Linked DNA regions of Homo sapiens. The protein of the gene in region 2 interacts with the protein of the main gene of each other region in a pairwise test. Each region holds a gene or a part of one and is shown on either strand. Other genes may lie near its edges. The genes, in order: VEZT and MYO7A.

Region 1 (8,012 bases), on a different chromosome or scaffold from region 2:
TGTATAGAATATTACACTTTAAAACAGGACAAAAACTTCCTATGCATAATCCACAATTCCTGCTCATGGTACAAAGCTCCTCTTTTTTGTGTTCATGTCTACCTTGTGTAGCACTCTTTCTTCCCTGAGCCATCTTCCCTCACTCAAATGCATTCTAATATGCGCCGTATATTTCTGATTCTATTGCCAAAACTTACTTCTTCGGAGGCTCTGGCTTTGCCTACAACCTGTCCACTGAAATCTTATTTTCCTTTGAGGACAATCCAACCTTTGCCACCCACTCAAGTGGAGATGGCCTTATCGCCCAGTTCCCTGTAGAAGGCAGGGCTAAGAGCCTCGTTAGCATTTACCTGCTTTCTTAGAACAGCAGATATAGACCACTGGAATACCCTGAGTTCATAGTGTCTTCATTTTTCCTATGCCATAATCTTTATATCAGCCTTATATCAAGCCTTATATCAAGCCCAACTCAGGCCTTGAACTGATGGGTAAAAACTTAGCTTCTAAAAATATCTTTCTGACTTTAAGTTCCTATCCTTGTATCTCTTATCCTCCCTAATTCCAGTGATTTTGATTTGCTGATTTAGCCTTTTGATTTTGCTGATGTATCAAGTCCTTTTGACCCATTCTTATTTACATAATCAAATACTGCCTTCCCCATTCCACTTCTTGCCTTGTATCCCAGGGTCAAGTACATCAACTACAATCTTGTCAGCTCTTTAAATTCCTAGGACCTTCCTGATTACCAACACAATTTGAACCCAACCATTCATTTGATCCAGTCCTACACGATGAGTATTTAACTGTTAGAGAAAAATTTCACTGGAAATGACTGTATTCAATTAAATGCCTTGATTCAATTTTTAAACTTGAAAACTTCCATGTACAAATATGTGAAAATAGTATTTTCAGCTGATAAAGGTATACCAAAGTGGGACATAAAAATTTAGGAATTAAGGTAGTATACCAACAATTTCATGCAAGGTAGGAAATGAACAAATATAAACTCTAGACTCTACATTTTGCTCTTCAACTGGGACCACAAAGCTTGTCCTGTGATACAAAAAAATTTTCAGATCTGCTGTAATTTATTTAGAAAAATAGCAATATGTTACTCTTCCACTATATATAACATATATACTGTTCCAGTACTGGTAGATATTTCTATTGGACTGCAGGTTCCAGTTTAAGAGCACTACCTTAAGACAGTTAAAAGAAACTCATTCTTTATAACCATCTCCATTTCAGCTCTCAAAGAGAATGAACAACACCTGCTTTTAGCCTACTTTTCCAAGTTTTCTGTTGAACTAAGGAAAAGTAAAAACTATAAATAATAACTCCCTCAAGTTATAGTACTTATAAATTATTTTTTTTTTTTGCTATATTTATAGCTATAAATCACCCTTCATGCTCATGCCTCAGTTTTGTTTCTTTTTTCTAGGTAGGACACAAGCCAACAACCACAATGGTACACGAATGAAGCTTGCTAATTACCGAGACCTTTCTTGGTATAATTTCTAAACTTACTCATTCAGTAATGCTTTCAGATGGAGCTGCAAGCTACGCACTGCTGTGTGAACATTATTCAGTTCTCTTGACTTCTGTTGAGTTTTGGATAAACACTGCGGTACTGACTGGTGCTGAGTTTCAAAGTACCGATAGAACTCATAGCTGCGCTTAAGCTCTTCCAAACAGGCAGAATGAGCATGAGGTAGACCTTGAGTCACATCAGATAAGATACGATGAGGCAGAAGTGCTGGAGTAAGTAAGGGCCCAGGAGGTGAATTGGCTGTAGAAAGTAATAGGGCTAACCGTCTGAAGAACTCTGAACTCTGTGCCACCCAGAGTTGGAACAAAACCTTAAAGAAAAAAGAAAAAAGAACTAGATCAATAAAAATATTGGTCAGTGTTCAAAACAAACTATAAATTTGTTTATCTTAACTTCTGGTTTAAATTTTGCACTTTATCCTAAATAATAAATATAGCCGAACTTAAACTACCTTAAGATTAGCCAAGAATATGATTTCAAATTATGTGTGTGGGAACCTCTGATTCCAATACAGCAGGTAACATCAATATATAATTTACTACAGTTCTGCCCTAGATGGGAAGTGTTGATGGAATGAGATAATTTAGTAAAAGTGAATCTTCACTCATTATTTAAAAAAAATTTTCACATAGGAGAAAAGAAGATAGTAGGACTAGTGGATATATATACATATATATATATATTTTTTTCTCTCCAAAGAAATGAGTCACATGGATCAAAAGCTTGGGTTTCAAAATAAGACTATTACCTTGCCCTAGGAATTAGCTAAGAAATTAACATAAAAATCAGTCCAGGGCTAGGCGCAGTGGCTCACTTTGGGAGGTGAAGGCGGATGGATCACTTGAGGTCAGGAGTTTGAGACCAGCCTGGCCAACATGGTGAAACCTCGTCTCTACTAAAAATACAAAATTTAGCCAGACATGGTGGTATGTGCTTGTAGTCTCAGCTACTTCGGAGGCCGAGGCAGGAAAATCATTTGAACTTGGGAGGCAGACGTTACAGTGAGCTGAGATGGCGCCACTGCACTCCAGCCTGGGTGACACAGCAAGACTCCATCCAAAAAAAAAAAAAATCAATACTCCAGGAATGTCTGACATGAGAAATTGCAAAACCCATTATTTTAATTAATTAATTAATTAATTTTTGTGATAGAGTCTTGCTCTGTTGCCCAGGCTAGAGTGCAATGGCACTATCATAGCTTACTGCAACCTCAAACTCCTGGGCTCAAGTGATCCTCCTACTTCAGCCTCCTGAGTAGCGGGAAACACAGGCATGTACCACCATACTCAGCTAATATTTAAGTTTTAGAGATGGGGTCTCAGTATGTTGCCAGGATAAATCCCATTCTTCTTCTTTTTTTTAAAATGCAGTCTGAATATGTTCATAGGCCCGTTCCTGAGATACATCCTGAATCCTGGCAGCAAAATATTTCTCCAGATATAGTCCTATTCAAGATGAGGACAATATCTCCGAAACAAATGCATGAGGAAACAATGTAGTATGAAACAAGAGGTAGCAGGGAATAAAAAGAGGATGAAACCACTTTGGGTAATTTAGATTCCAATTATTCACAACCATGAAAATAGACAGTATTTAGATGGTTTTAGTAAATGAATTTTAAAATTATGCCAATAATGAATTAAGATTATTTCATGTATATCTATTTTACCATTAACTTATTTTTTTTTTAAAGTGACCAAGGCCTAATTTCCTAGTTGCTACAGATGTGATATCTAGGGATTCTTGACTTGCAAGTTTACTTGCAAGCCTTCTTATTCAACTGTTAAATTTTATGATTACAATGATTTTTATTCTTTTGTTCGTTCATTCAGAAATGATTTCTTGAGCACCCATGATGTGCCAGGCACTGTTCTAGGTGCAGATAAACAGCAGTGAGCAAAAATGAAGAGTCCCCACTCTGATGGAGCTTATATTCAAGTAGAGGGGCACAGATAATAATTTACAAGTAAAAGATACTATTTCCCTTTTGCAGTAATGATTGTCGAGGAAGAAAAAGAAAGATAGTGTTTCTTGGTTGATGGGAAAAACACAGCAAAGAAGAGGAATAGTGTGTGTGTGTGTGTGTGTGTGTGTGTGTACACATATGAAAGGGGGGGAATAGTGTGTGTGTGTGTGTGTGTGTATGTGTGTGTACACATATGAAAGGGGGGGAGAGAGACAGAAAGCGCGAAGGAGAGAGGAGAAGGGGCTGGCTGGGGAGGTCTCTAAAAGTGTCACCTGAAGGAAGTGAGCCATGAGATAATCATCAAGGAAGAGAGTTCTAGGGAGCAGGAAGTCAAATGCAAAGTACTGTTGTGGGAGCACACAGGGTAGATCTATGGAACAGCAAGAAGCTCAGTACGGCTGGGGCCAGGTAAGCAATGGGGAGCCACTGAAGGGTTCTGAGCAGAAGCATGACATAATCTGATTTATGCGTTAACAGGCCCATACTGTCTGCTGAGTTGAGAGATTATAGGAAAATGAGAGTAGAAGTGGAGAAACCAGTAAGGAAGTTACTGCAATATTCCAGGTAAGCATTAATGAGACCACGGTGGTTAGTGGTGGAAGGTGAGCAGCAGATGGACTCTGGATACATTGTGAAAGCAGAACTAACACAATCTCTTGACTGATTGGTATTGAGAGAAAAAGAGTTAACAAGGATGATTCCAGCATGTTGGGTCAAGATAACTGCAAGAATCAAGTTGGTACAGTTTACTGCGGCTTTTGAAAAGACTAAAGGCCAGGCGCAGTGGCTCCCACCTGTAATCCCAGCACTTTGGGAGGCTCACTTGAGGCCAGTAGTTGGGAGACCAGCCTGGGAAACACAGTGAGACCCCTGCCTCTACAAAATATTTTCTTAAAAATTAGTCAGGCATGGTGGCACATAACTGTTGTTCCAGCTACTTGGGAGGCTAGGGTGGGAGGATCGCTTGAGCCCAGGAGTTCAGGGTTACAGTGAGCCACGATTGCACCACTGCACACCAGCTGTGTGACTGAGCAAGACCTTGTCTCTAAAGACTAATTTGTCATCCAATCACTGTCACATTACCCACTTAAACCAGAACTCAGAAATATGTATTTCTTTTTTCCTGTTTGTTCTTTGGATAAGGAAAGCTCCTCTGGATAAGGAGATAACCATAGCTGATAGGTAAACAGAAAATTTTGATTTAAAGCATTTCACAATGTGTGCATTTATTTTTTCTAGAGCAGGAAACAGATGACTTCATAAATTTAAAAAACTAGTTAAAAACTTAAAGGAAAAGAGAGGGATAAGGACTGTGTTCTAGGGACTGATTGAGTATCCCTAATCCAAAACTTTGAAATGAAATCCCAAATGCTCCAAAATTTGAAACTTTTTGAGCACCAACATGGCAGTCAAAGGAAATGCTCACTGGAACATTTCAAATTTCAAATTTTTGGATTAGGGATGCTCAACCTCAATGTGTAATGCAAATATTCCAAAATCTGAAAAAATCCAAAATCCAAAACACTTCTAGTCTCAAGCATTTTGGATAAGAAATTAATTAATCAATTAATTTATTTATTTATGTTGAGACGGAGTTTCGCTCTTGTTGCCCAGGCTGGAGTGCAATGGCACGATCTTGGCTCACCACAACTTCCGCCTCCTGGGTTCAAGCGATTCTCCTGCCTCAGCCTCCCGAGTAGCTGGGATTACAGGCATGCACCACCACACCTGGCTAATTTTTTGTATTTTTAGTAGAGACGGGGTATCTCCATGTTGGTCAGGCTGGTTGCAAACTCCCAACCTCAGTTGATCCGCCCGCCTTGGCCTCCCAGAGTGCTGGGATTACAGGCGTGAGCCACGGTGCCAGGCCTGGATAAGACTCACGCCTGGATAAGAAATATTCAACCTGTATTTTATTTATGTCTCCTCAGGCTACAATTTGGAGGTTGCTTTTCTTTCTAAAGGTGCAATACTTACTATCACTAAACTTTCCTGAGGGAAGATACGGGAACAATAAAAAATAAATCCAAAATGTATTTTCTTTAGAGGGGGCAACACACTTTTAAAAATTTAACTTACAAAATCTATTTTTAAATTTCTTATCTGAATAACGATACAGTGGTAACTACAGAAGGGGGTAATACACAGTCTTTGAACATTACAGGGGTTTTCAACAGTTTGCAAAGTCTATAGAGCTCCTCAAGATAAGGCTCCTTTCAGAGCCTGATAAATGTGGTAACTGTAACACAATCATTGAGTTTGGTTACAGGTTAGTTATATGTAAAAATAAAAGAAATATAAAAATACTATTATAGTTTGATTTGTAAAACACTGTGAGTGAGCAAAAGGAATCTAGCTATAATCACCATTGTTGGAAGGTAGGATGGGGATACAGCAACAGAGAACAAGTCTCACATTTCAGAGCAGGCCATATCAGATAGAATTTTAAAAATCAGCTAACATTCATTAATTGCTTACTCTACACCAGGCACTGAACTGACAAACATCTAATCCTTTGGAGGCAAGCATTGCAATTATCCCATTTTAATAAACACAGAAACAATGATTTGCTCAGGACCACACAGTAGTCAAATAACGGAGCTAGAGTGAAACCTGGAAAATCTGACTCCACAGGGTCCACAACTTCTCTTTGCTGCCTATACTTAAGCTAGAGTACAATTCAGGATTTAATAAGCTTTTAAAAACAGTACATCAACAGCATAAAGAAATAAATCTCCAAGGCATCTTGATGAGTTAACAAAAAGTAATTTAAAAGGAAATGAAATACTATAATTCTTTCTCCAAGTCCTTCTTAAAGAATAACAGCTATTACCATTTGGGGGTACCCATTATATGTCAAGCCCTGTTCTAGGTATTTAATATGTCTTCTCATTTAATCTAATACCTTATAAGGCAGGGATGGTAACTCCTTTTCACAGGTGACATAAGTTCAAAGAATAACTTATTCAAAGGCAAATGGCTAGTCAGTCAGGGCTAAAATATAAACACAGGTCTGCTCCATTTTCCACATTAAGAATCTCTTAAATTGTACTTTGAAAAAAATCTTTATTTTCCTTAAAGAATAAAGCAAGGTTAGGATATTAAATTCGAAAGGGTGTGAAAGTATCTATAGTCCCACCACCCCAAAGAGTAGCTATATATATCTTGGTATTTTCTCCTCATTTTTTTTTTTAAACAGGGTTGTGGACATATTGCATATACACTTATGTATCCTGATTGTTTCACTGGCAACAGATGTTTCTCCAAGTTTTTACAGAATTTTCACGGGCAAGCTGTAGCTGCTACACAATGGTTCACCATGTGGCTCTGGCATGACTCACACAGCCATTCCTCTATTTTTGAACTTTCAGGCAGTGTTCCATTGTGCACTATTATAAACACAAAGTGAATAAGCAGCTTGGTATATAAAGTTTAACTATGTTTTAAATAATTTCCTGCAGTTTGTAGAAGGGGAATTACAAATTCAAAGGATAAATCATTAAAAAGGTTCTTTACATGTCAAGTTGCATTCTGAAACAAATAACTTTAGATAACTGAGGAAAGTACTGCAGCAGCCTAAGTATGAAATGATGGTGGCTGGGACTAGCATGGTGGCTGGGACTAGGATGGTGCGGGGGCGGGGGTGGATATAGAAAAAAGTGGATGGGTTTAAAATACATTTTCAAGGTAGAAGTGACATAAGAATCTGCTAACAGACTGGATGTGAGTGGGCAAAAAGAGGGACAAGAAAGATGGTGTCCAGGTTTTTTGTGGTGCCATTTATTGAGATGGGTTAGAAGGGGAGTAGGAATAAGCCAAAGCAAATTTTACGTAATAGGAAAGAAAGAAAACAAACAAGATTATTAGAACATTTATGTTGATTTAGAAAATGTAAAAGATATGGAAGTCAATACAGTCTCAAAACAAAATGGATCTTGATAAATGCTAACAACAATACTTGCACTAATTTTCACGGTATCAAGGGAAGTTTTAAAAACTAAAAACAAAGAAACATCTAAAGAGAGCTTACTAAATACTTAGTAGGAACTTAAGACATTTGGATCAATGTCTTAAAAATACTACTGGAGGCTGGGCATGGTGGCTCATGCCTGTTATCCCAACACTTTGGGAGGCTGATGTGGGCAAATAGTTTGAGCTCAGGAGTTTTAGACCAGCCTGGGCAACACGGTGAAACCCTGTCTCTACAAAAAATACAAAAATTAGCCGGGTGTGGAGGCATGTAACTGTAGTCCCAGCTACTCGGGAGGCTGAGGTAGGAGGATCACCTGAGGCCTGGGGAGGTTGAGGCTGCAGTGAGCTGTGATTGAGCCACACTGTACTCCAGCCTGGGCAACAGAGTGAGACTCTGTCTCAAAAAAAAAAAAAAAAAAAAAAAAGAAAAAAATTAAAAGAAAAAGAAAAACAAAAAAAATTTGTTTCCAATGTTGGCTGCTACACTAATGTCATGAACATACTTTGGGTATATCTTTGGTTACT
Region 2 (8,012 bases):
TCTGCTGAAGTATGGGACCTCGAGGGCAGATCACAAACCCTCCCCACAAGGGGATTCTCCACTATCAATCAATCAATCAATCACTTCTCTAGGTGCTCATCCCAGCCACAGTCTGAGGATGCCCCACCTCTAAGTCACACCTTCCCTGTCTGAAACCCCCACCCGCAGCCCTACTCCAGTCATGGCCAAACCTGGTTGTCCCATGCTGGTCACAAAGTAACATTTTACTGGCACCCACTGGACATGAAGATTTAACCCAAGGCAGCATTGTTCTTGGGGTTCTTGGACATGTCTTGATGAGCCAAGGTGTTTCTGGCAGGTGCAAGGGCCGCTGTGGCTCCACTGGCCCTAGTTACAGCCCAGAAGCTGATTCCTCCTCTAGACCCCCAGCTGCTCATGCACACTTGGTCCTCACCTCCCAGCCTGATGTCCAGCACTTCCTCCCAACCCACCCCAATCTCAGCTCTTCCCTTTAAGCCACTTAAGGCACATCTTGAGCTCAAGCTCCCCAACCCCCAAACCCAGACCAGCTTGGCCCCAGCAGGTTAAGACCAAAGAAGTCGTTATATAGGCTGCTCCCCTGCAAGGCCCTGTCCTGACCCCACATGCCCTTCCCTTCCACTTCCCCTCCCTGAGCAAAGACACTGTCGGGCCAGAGAATGAAACATGCTTTATGCCCTGAGGTGATCAGGGTAGACTTGAGCAGGGGCCCAGCATTCACACTGCAATATAGAAAAGTGGTCTGTCTCCCTCATCCCACCTGCAGATCCAGTCCCTTCGGTTTCAGAGTATTCAATGCACATTTGGTTGTTCAAAGTATGGAGAGCTAGATTGTCCTCTTGATTCCTCTATCCCAGTGGTACACAGAAAGTCAAAGGAAGTTGCATGGTGGGGCTGGTCTGAAACAGGAGACACATCTAAGGATCACAGGCTCTCACAACCGGGAAGGCCACAGCAAACTAGGATTAGACCAACCCAGGTGCCAGAGGGGTGGATGGAGGGAAGTTCTGCATCCCAGAGAGATGCCTCACTGGAAGAACATCAGAGGCCCAGTTGGTATAGTCAGTGGTGGCTGGCCAGCCCAGCCTCGCTGCCGGGATGGCATAAGTCTTCCCCAGCTGCAGGGGTAGCTGATGGGCCTGAACCCACTGCTGCCTCGAGAGCAGGCATGGAACCAGCACCTCCCCGTGACTGTTCACTTGCCGCTCCTGGAGCCCCGCTGTTTGCTCATGGCTGTGAGCATCTGGCTAATGTAGGAAGTCAGGAGGTCATCCATCTTGTAGCCCTGGAAGCAGGGGTGAGAAGATAAGCGAGCACACGGTGGGACAGGGCCAGCCACTCAGACCATAGCACAGCTCCCAGGAATCTGCAATGGGCAGAACCCAGGACAAAGGCAAATCCCTCCTACTCAGGGCTTATCTCCCATCTGCACAATTGAAGGGTTGAATTCATCCAGCCAGATGGCTAAGGTTCTACACTGTTATGACCCCACATTAAGCCCCTAGCTTGTGGGTCCCTCAAGTCACGGATCCCTCCCTCCAAGAGTGACCCTACTGGCTCTCAGTTGAGCTATGCCTTGGAAGTTTGAGCTTGGTCAAGGAGGTCTCATTGTTAATGGTTCCACTGTTGAACTCGGGGGGCTAAAGGGCTGTCACAGTGGGCCCGATCCCCAGATACTGAAGGCACTCAGACAACAGTTGTTGAACGAGGGATCTGTTCCTCAGCCCCAGATTAAGTCCCTTCCCCAGACCTAAGCTGAGCCTCAAACTGACCTGACCTTGGCCCCAGCATGACCCTTGCCCACGACCCCAGGCCCAGCCGCACACTACTGTGTTTGTTCCAGGCCCTGGGAGGCTGGCTACGCTGCAGGCAAGGCAGGGAGCCCACTAGGCCCAGCAGGATGCGCCCTCACCAGTGACGTCTCGCAGAGCAGTTTGCTCCCGCGCACCAAGTTCCCAATGGTGATGTGGAAGTAGGTGTTGCCGCTGCTCCAGTTGGAGATCTTGGTGAAGGGATGAGTGGTGAGGATATCCTGGGGGAGCAGAAAGGGCATAGAGAGGCACGGCCTGGGCCCTGTGGCCTCACTTGCCCACACATGCCCTCACAGAAGGCCTCAGGCCCTCAGAGGAGCCCATGGCCGGAGGGAAAAGCCAGCTCTGCCATCCAGCTGCGGTGGGAAGCAGGTGCCTCCCCCTCCACACCTTGGTTTGGACACCCAGGAAGTCTAGGAGGCTGTTGGGTACTTGGGGCCAGAACTCGGAAATTGGGAGACCTGAGGGAACTGACACCGTGGCCTGAATGAGATGGTCCAGGGAGAGTTTGAGGAGGGAGCCAAGAAGAAGACAGGGCAGAACCTTGGGAAACACGGTGTACAGGAGCAGGCACCAAAGGGTCCGGGAAGGAATGACCAAGACACAGAGGACAGCCAGGAATGCGTGATGCATGAAGCCAATGGAAAGATGGTGGTCACGAGCCCTCTTCACCACCTGTCCAGTCGGACCCTCTGGGTGTGCAGCTGGGCTGCTCTGGCCCAGAAACACAGATGCACGGTCACCCCTGCACAGCCAGCCCCATGACCTGCATGGGCAGAGCATCCAGTGATACTGAAAGGCCAAGTACTAAAGGGAGTTCACATTCCATAGGAAGGAGTTTGTTAGTAACTTCAGGAGAGCAATTTTGGTGGAGCAAGCGTTGGGTAAAGTCCTAGCAAACGCTGACAGCTTTTGAAGCCACGTGATGGGTGGATGAGTCTAGAGATAGATGGTGGCTAGGAGGGCTTGTGGGGTTCGTTCTGGGACCGTGTCTGTGGTTCAGGCAGAGAAGCCCGCCCCCACTTGCTGCCTTATCCCTGCTCACCTTCGTTTTGGGATCGATGAGGCTGACCCCATACTTGTTGATGGCAATTAGGAGGATCTCAGGGAAGTTTGGCTCCGTAGTTTGCTAGAAAAAAAGATGAGAAGGCATCAGATGGGGGCCCAGAGCAAGAAAAGCATTTGGGGACAGGAATGAAGCCTGGCCCCAGCTGGGATAAAGTCAGCCTCTCCTGTTGCCTATGTGGTACTGACGGCCCTGCCATGACCTATGGCTTCCACCTCCGCTGGGCCCTCAGTGCTGCCCCACATCCCTTCCTGGGTCCCCCAGGCCATCCTCTGCTTTGTCCTCCCTCTCAGCCCAAGGGCCTCCCATCTTTAAAAAGCCTCCTGGACCCTGCACCTGCCTCCAGCTACCTACCTGTTCTCCTCGCACAGCCAAGCTCCTCAAAAGGCCTCCCATCCTAGCTGTGTGATAAGACCATACGTATCCTCTCACACCAGCCTCCTCACCATACTCCTGCCTCTGTTGTGCCCCTCAGACCCCTCCTCCACCCGCAGCCTGAGAGGCTTTCTGGCCACGTCACCTGTGTTCAAAACCCTCCAAGGCAGGCCACCCCTGCAGGAAACCCAGCCTCTCACCTGCTTGCCAAGCTGCTGCTCTCCACAGCCCACTCTCGCCTCCTGCCCTCACTACTTGGATTTCCTTCCCAGACCTGAGTTCTCACACCTCCAGGCCTTTGTCTATGTGGGACCCCTGCCAGGAGCACTCTTTCCAGGGTCTGCCTGGAAAGCTCAGATATCACCTCCTCTAAGAGGCCTTCTCACACCCGGCAGAGCCTCCCGAGCTCTGCCACCTGGGCGAGGGCTCCCCAGTGTCAGAACACAGGCCATCCTCCATTACCCCAGCCTGTTTACATGTCTGCCTCCACTGCCAGGCTGAGCTTCTTCTGGTCCCTCTGTCCCCAGGACTTACCCCAGCTAAGACGCTAAGCTGGGACAAGGCTGAGGGTGCTGCCCTCCTTCCCTCACCAGGGCAGGTGTCCAAGGCCATGGCTCTTTCCCACAGTCCTAGGGAGGAGTCTCTGTGCTTTATCAATGCCCTGTTCCCCTCCTCCTCTGCTCTGAGAAGCCCATGGTGTACCTTCACCTCGAAGAAGGCTGAGCCAAAGGTGGGCCACTTGAAGATGAGCTTCAGGAAGGCCAGCTTGGCCTCCTCCTTGGACTTCCCTGCGTGCTTGTTGAAGTAGGCGACGATGGACTATGGGGACAGGGCGGTCAGGGCTGGGCTCAGTCCTGGGGACAGGCCTGCTCAGGGCAGGCCAGCTCAGAGCTCAGAGTCCTCCCCACACCACCCCTGCCCACTCCAGCCCCGTCTGCACCCTCAGGGCCAGGACTAGGACAGCAGACCTGGGGACTGTGAAGGGCTCTCCCCATATTTCAGCTAATGGACTCCCGACCTCCCTTCTCACCCCCAGGCAGGCAGACCAAAGGGTATCAAGGACAAACAGGTCACCATGGTAACCAGGACAGGATAAATGACTGCCAAGTGGCCACTGAGTCCTTGGCATGGAGGACTGAAGGATAAGGCAGGTGGAGGAACAAGGGTGGGCGGCCTCATCAAGTACAAGAACCACAAGATGCACCTCCCTGGGCTGCTGGCCAGTGTCTGCCCCCTTGGCCCCTGGGGTGCCCCGAGGCCCATTCAGGGCCCCACCATTCCCGATGCCCACCCCATGCTCACCCGCTTCCAGTCATCAGGTGAGACCTGCCGGATAAGGTCCTGGGGCACCAGCTCCCGCAGCAGCTTGGGGATGCTGGGGAAGTAGGACTTGTCCTCCTCGAACTTGACCCTGTAGATCAGCGCCCCCAGCTGCAGCACCTCCTCCCGCGTGCACTTGTGGTAGCCTCGGAGATACTTGGGCAACTCCTGTCAGAGACAGAGCAGGTCACAGGCGTGCAGGGACCTGGCAGAAGTGGGCTCCTTTCCCACCACACCAAGACCCCCAACGCCGGGGTCTACCACCTTACCCCGCACATGGGCCCACCCACCTCTCCAGCCTCAGCTGACACTGCTCCCCCAGGGGATACGGCACAGGACAGGGACAGAGCAAGTCTGCCTGCACAGACTCAGCAGTTGGCAGTTGGAGTGCATGGCCATGTCTGTTACCTCATGTCCCCCCATAACAGTCCAGTGAGATGAGCAGCCCCATTTCAAGATGAAGAAACTCAGAGTGACCAGCTGGCAACCCTGAGACTGTTCCATACCCCTCACCTCCTGGGCCCATCCTCCTCTGGAAGAGCCTCTCAGTCTGGCCTCCTTGCATTGGGTTCTCTTGAGACCAGCTGCTTTCATTAGCAGTAGCAGAGGCCCTCCCACCCCCTTGAACTTCCAGACCCAAAACCAGAGGAACTTAGGCTGGGGAATGGGCCCAGAGCAGAGATGAAGCCTCTGAAGGGCTGGCGCTGCCCACAGACTCCTAGAGCCTTATGGTCATCTTATACACAATTTGAAAGGTAGAGAAACTGAGGCTGGCCTGAGGATACATTGTCAGTCAGAGATCTGAGTCAATCATTATCCATCCTACCCACCCATCCATGTGGTTATGGGTCTATCTACCTACACATCTACCTCCATCCATCTCCCTATCTGTCCATCCATCTACCCACCCATCCACCCACTCACCTACCTAACTCACCAATTCACTTACCAATATCCACCCATCAATTCACTCAGCATTCATCCTCCCATCTCTATGTTCATTGAGCCACCAGTTTACCTACTCACCCATCTGTCAATCCAACAAGCATGCATTGAACATCTATGAGCCAGGCCCTTTAAGCAACAATGCCTACCCTCCCTACTTCCATGGAACTTGTAGTCTCAGGGCAAGGACAGACATTAAAAATCATACCAAACAGATATATAATGACAACCTTTGAAGGAATTGTCCACAGTGCTGTAAGAGAATATAACAAGGTGACCTAATCTAGGCTTGAGGACAGGGCAGACTTCCTTTAAGATAAAATGGCTGACTGACATCTAAAAGCTCAGTAGGTGAGGGAAGGAACTGAGGGAAGAGCATCCCAACATTACAAAGGCCCTGTGGCACACTTGAGAAGCGGAAACAATCCAGCTGAGCTGAAGGAGAGCCAGGTACAAGGCAAGGCAGCAGGAGCAGTTAGTGGCACCACCAGGCAGGGCCACGGCCAGGACGGGGGTTATGCCCTACGAGCAAGGGGAATCCACTGGGGGAATCTGGAAAGCAGGATGACCACCCTGTGGAGAAAGGATTGAAAGGACCAAAATGGATGAGGAGAACAGGGAGAAGGTCACTGCCTCCATTCTGGATCAGAGATGATGGTAGACTGACCCAGGTTGGGAAGGTGGTGATGGAGAGACATGGGGGACTTTAGAGATATCCAGGAGGTACAGTCATCAGGTAAGTGATTTGGGACGTGGGACAGGAGGAGCAGATGTCAAGGCTGACTCTGGGGGAACTGGTAGTCCAGGGGCCATGCACTCAGTGGGCAGCATGGGGTGGGTGGGGAGGGGCATGAGGAAAGGTAGATCCCAGGTTTGGATGAGGGCAGTCCTTCTCACTCCCAGGCCAGTGTCCTCTCTGCCACAGCAGCCACCGTCCCTGCCTCCTCTGCCCTTCCCAGCATCATGGTTTTTCTCCCACAGAATGGTAAGCAGGCTGAGCCCAGAAAAGAGCACCAACCTGCAGTCATGAAGACCTGGAATCAAACCCCAGTTCCATCAGCTGTGTGATCCTAATCACAGCACGCGGCCTGAGTCTCTTTGTCCCTCTGTCAAATGGGGACAACATGCCTGCTTCTTGGGGTTAGTTGGGAGGACAGAATGAGAGAAGAGTGCCAGACACATAATAGAGGCTCAACATGCAAGCTTCCCTCCCGGCTTCCTGCAGGTGCCTATGCTAGAAAATGTTTGCACAGAGGCCTTGGAATTACCCAGTTACAACAGCAGAATCTCGAAGTCAGAGGATAGCCCCGCACTGAAGGAGGGGCCTGAACAGGTAGGGATCGGAAGCTCAGAGGAGGAACTGTCAAGCCCCTAAGGGCTGAAGAATCAGAAGATACAAGGATCAGGGGTTGGGCCATCCCTTGGGGCTCCAGTGGTCTTGGCAGGAATCCCTTTGAGGCCAGGCTGGTACGGGCCCCACACCTGGCAAGGTCAGTGGGTCTCTGCTTTCAGGGCCAAAGTACAGCAACGCTAGCTGTGCACGAAGGCAACTAGAGTGCAGAGGTGCCCACCTGGTAATAGTGGAAGATGGAATCGGCCATGGGATCCTTCCCTGGCACCGTGGTGGTCCACAGCTTCTTCATGAAGAACACCTGGTAGGTGAGTGAGGGCACAATTCCTGCAGCACAGGGCAGTCGGTCACCCAGAGGGTCCCTGCACAGAGGAGTGCTCACGTCCCGAGCCCAGACCCAGAGGAGGCCCTCACTCAGGCCCGCCTAGGTGGGCCTCACGGCACAGCCCCGAGCCCACACTTCCCTGCTCTGGGCCTCAGATGATCCCAGGACCCGGCCTCATTACCGTCCTTGATGGGCCGAGCTTTCTTTATCCAGTCTGTCAAGTGTCGAACAAAGTCAAAGAAGAAGTCATTCTCAGGAACGCTGAGGACCTGGGGTCAGGGCCATCGAAGCACACTCAGTTTAAGCAACACTGCATTTTCTGACCTTCCCACCTAAGGCCTGTCTGGCAGCTGCTCCTTCTCAGGGAAGACTCCACTCCCAGCCGGAAGGGGTTTCTGTGTGTCAGCCCCACCCTGCCCCATGTGCCTGCTGAGTGTCCCCGGAAGAGCCCACTTCTTGCCGGGAGCGATGGTCATTCCATTCAGTGCCTGGGACACTGAACGCTGCCTTAGACTCAAGGGAAACTGGCCAAGAATGCGGCCCAGCCCCTGGCTTGGACATTCTCTGGCATCCATGTCCAGCTCCTCCTGCAGCTCTGGGCTCCCCTGGGTCTAGGACCTCATTGGGGTCACCTCTGGGTCCCAGCGTCTGGCACAGAGACAGGCATGAAGTGAGGAAACAGACACAGAGGCACACAGAGCCATCAGCAGGCAACAGGATGGGGCACCCAACTCGGTCAGGGAGGCCTTCCCGTGGAGGGGTCTTTAGCTGGGCCTGGAAGACTTCCAGGGACAGAGGTGCTGGGGGAGCGTGATGTGA

What was found.
Region 1: the proteins of MYO7A (region 2) and VEZT interact in a two-hybrid assay, tested with the Homo sapiens proteins (one study listed by BioGRID).

Annotation. Positions count from the first base shown.
Region 1 is NC_000012.12:95,276,160-95,284,171, reverse strand, and holds part of VEZT (vezatin), read right to left. Parts: intron 1,860-8,012; coding exon 1,528-1,859; intron 1-1,527. UniProt on the Homo sapiens protein: Plays a pivotal role in the establishment of adherens junctions and their maintenance in adult life.
Region 2 is NC_000011.10:77,207,880-77,215,891, reverse strand, and holds the end of MYO7A (unconventional myosin-VIIa), read right to left. Parts: intron 7,463-8,012; coding exon 7,375-7,462; intron 7,196-7,374; coding exon 7,089-7,195; intron 4,741-7,088; coding exon 4,555-4,740; intron 4,072-4,554; coding exon 3,955-4,071; coding exon of another isoform or gene 3,622-3,954; exon of another isoform or gene 3,306-3,621; intron 3,279-3,305; coding exon of another isoform or gene 3,258-3,278; exon of another isoform or gene 3,232-3,257; intron 2,941-3,231; coding exon 2,857-2,940; exon of another isoform or gene 2,856-2,856; intron 2,033-2,855; coding exon 1,913-2,032; intron 1,286-1,912; coding exon 1,196-1,285; 3' UTR 651-1,195; downstream 1-650. UniProt on the Homo sapiens protein: Myosins are actin-based motor molecules with ATPase activity. Unconventional myosins serve in intracellular movements. Their highly divergent tails bind to membranous compartments, which are then moved relative to actin filaments.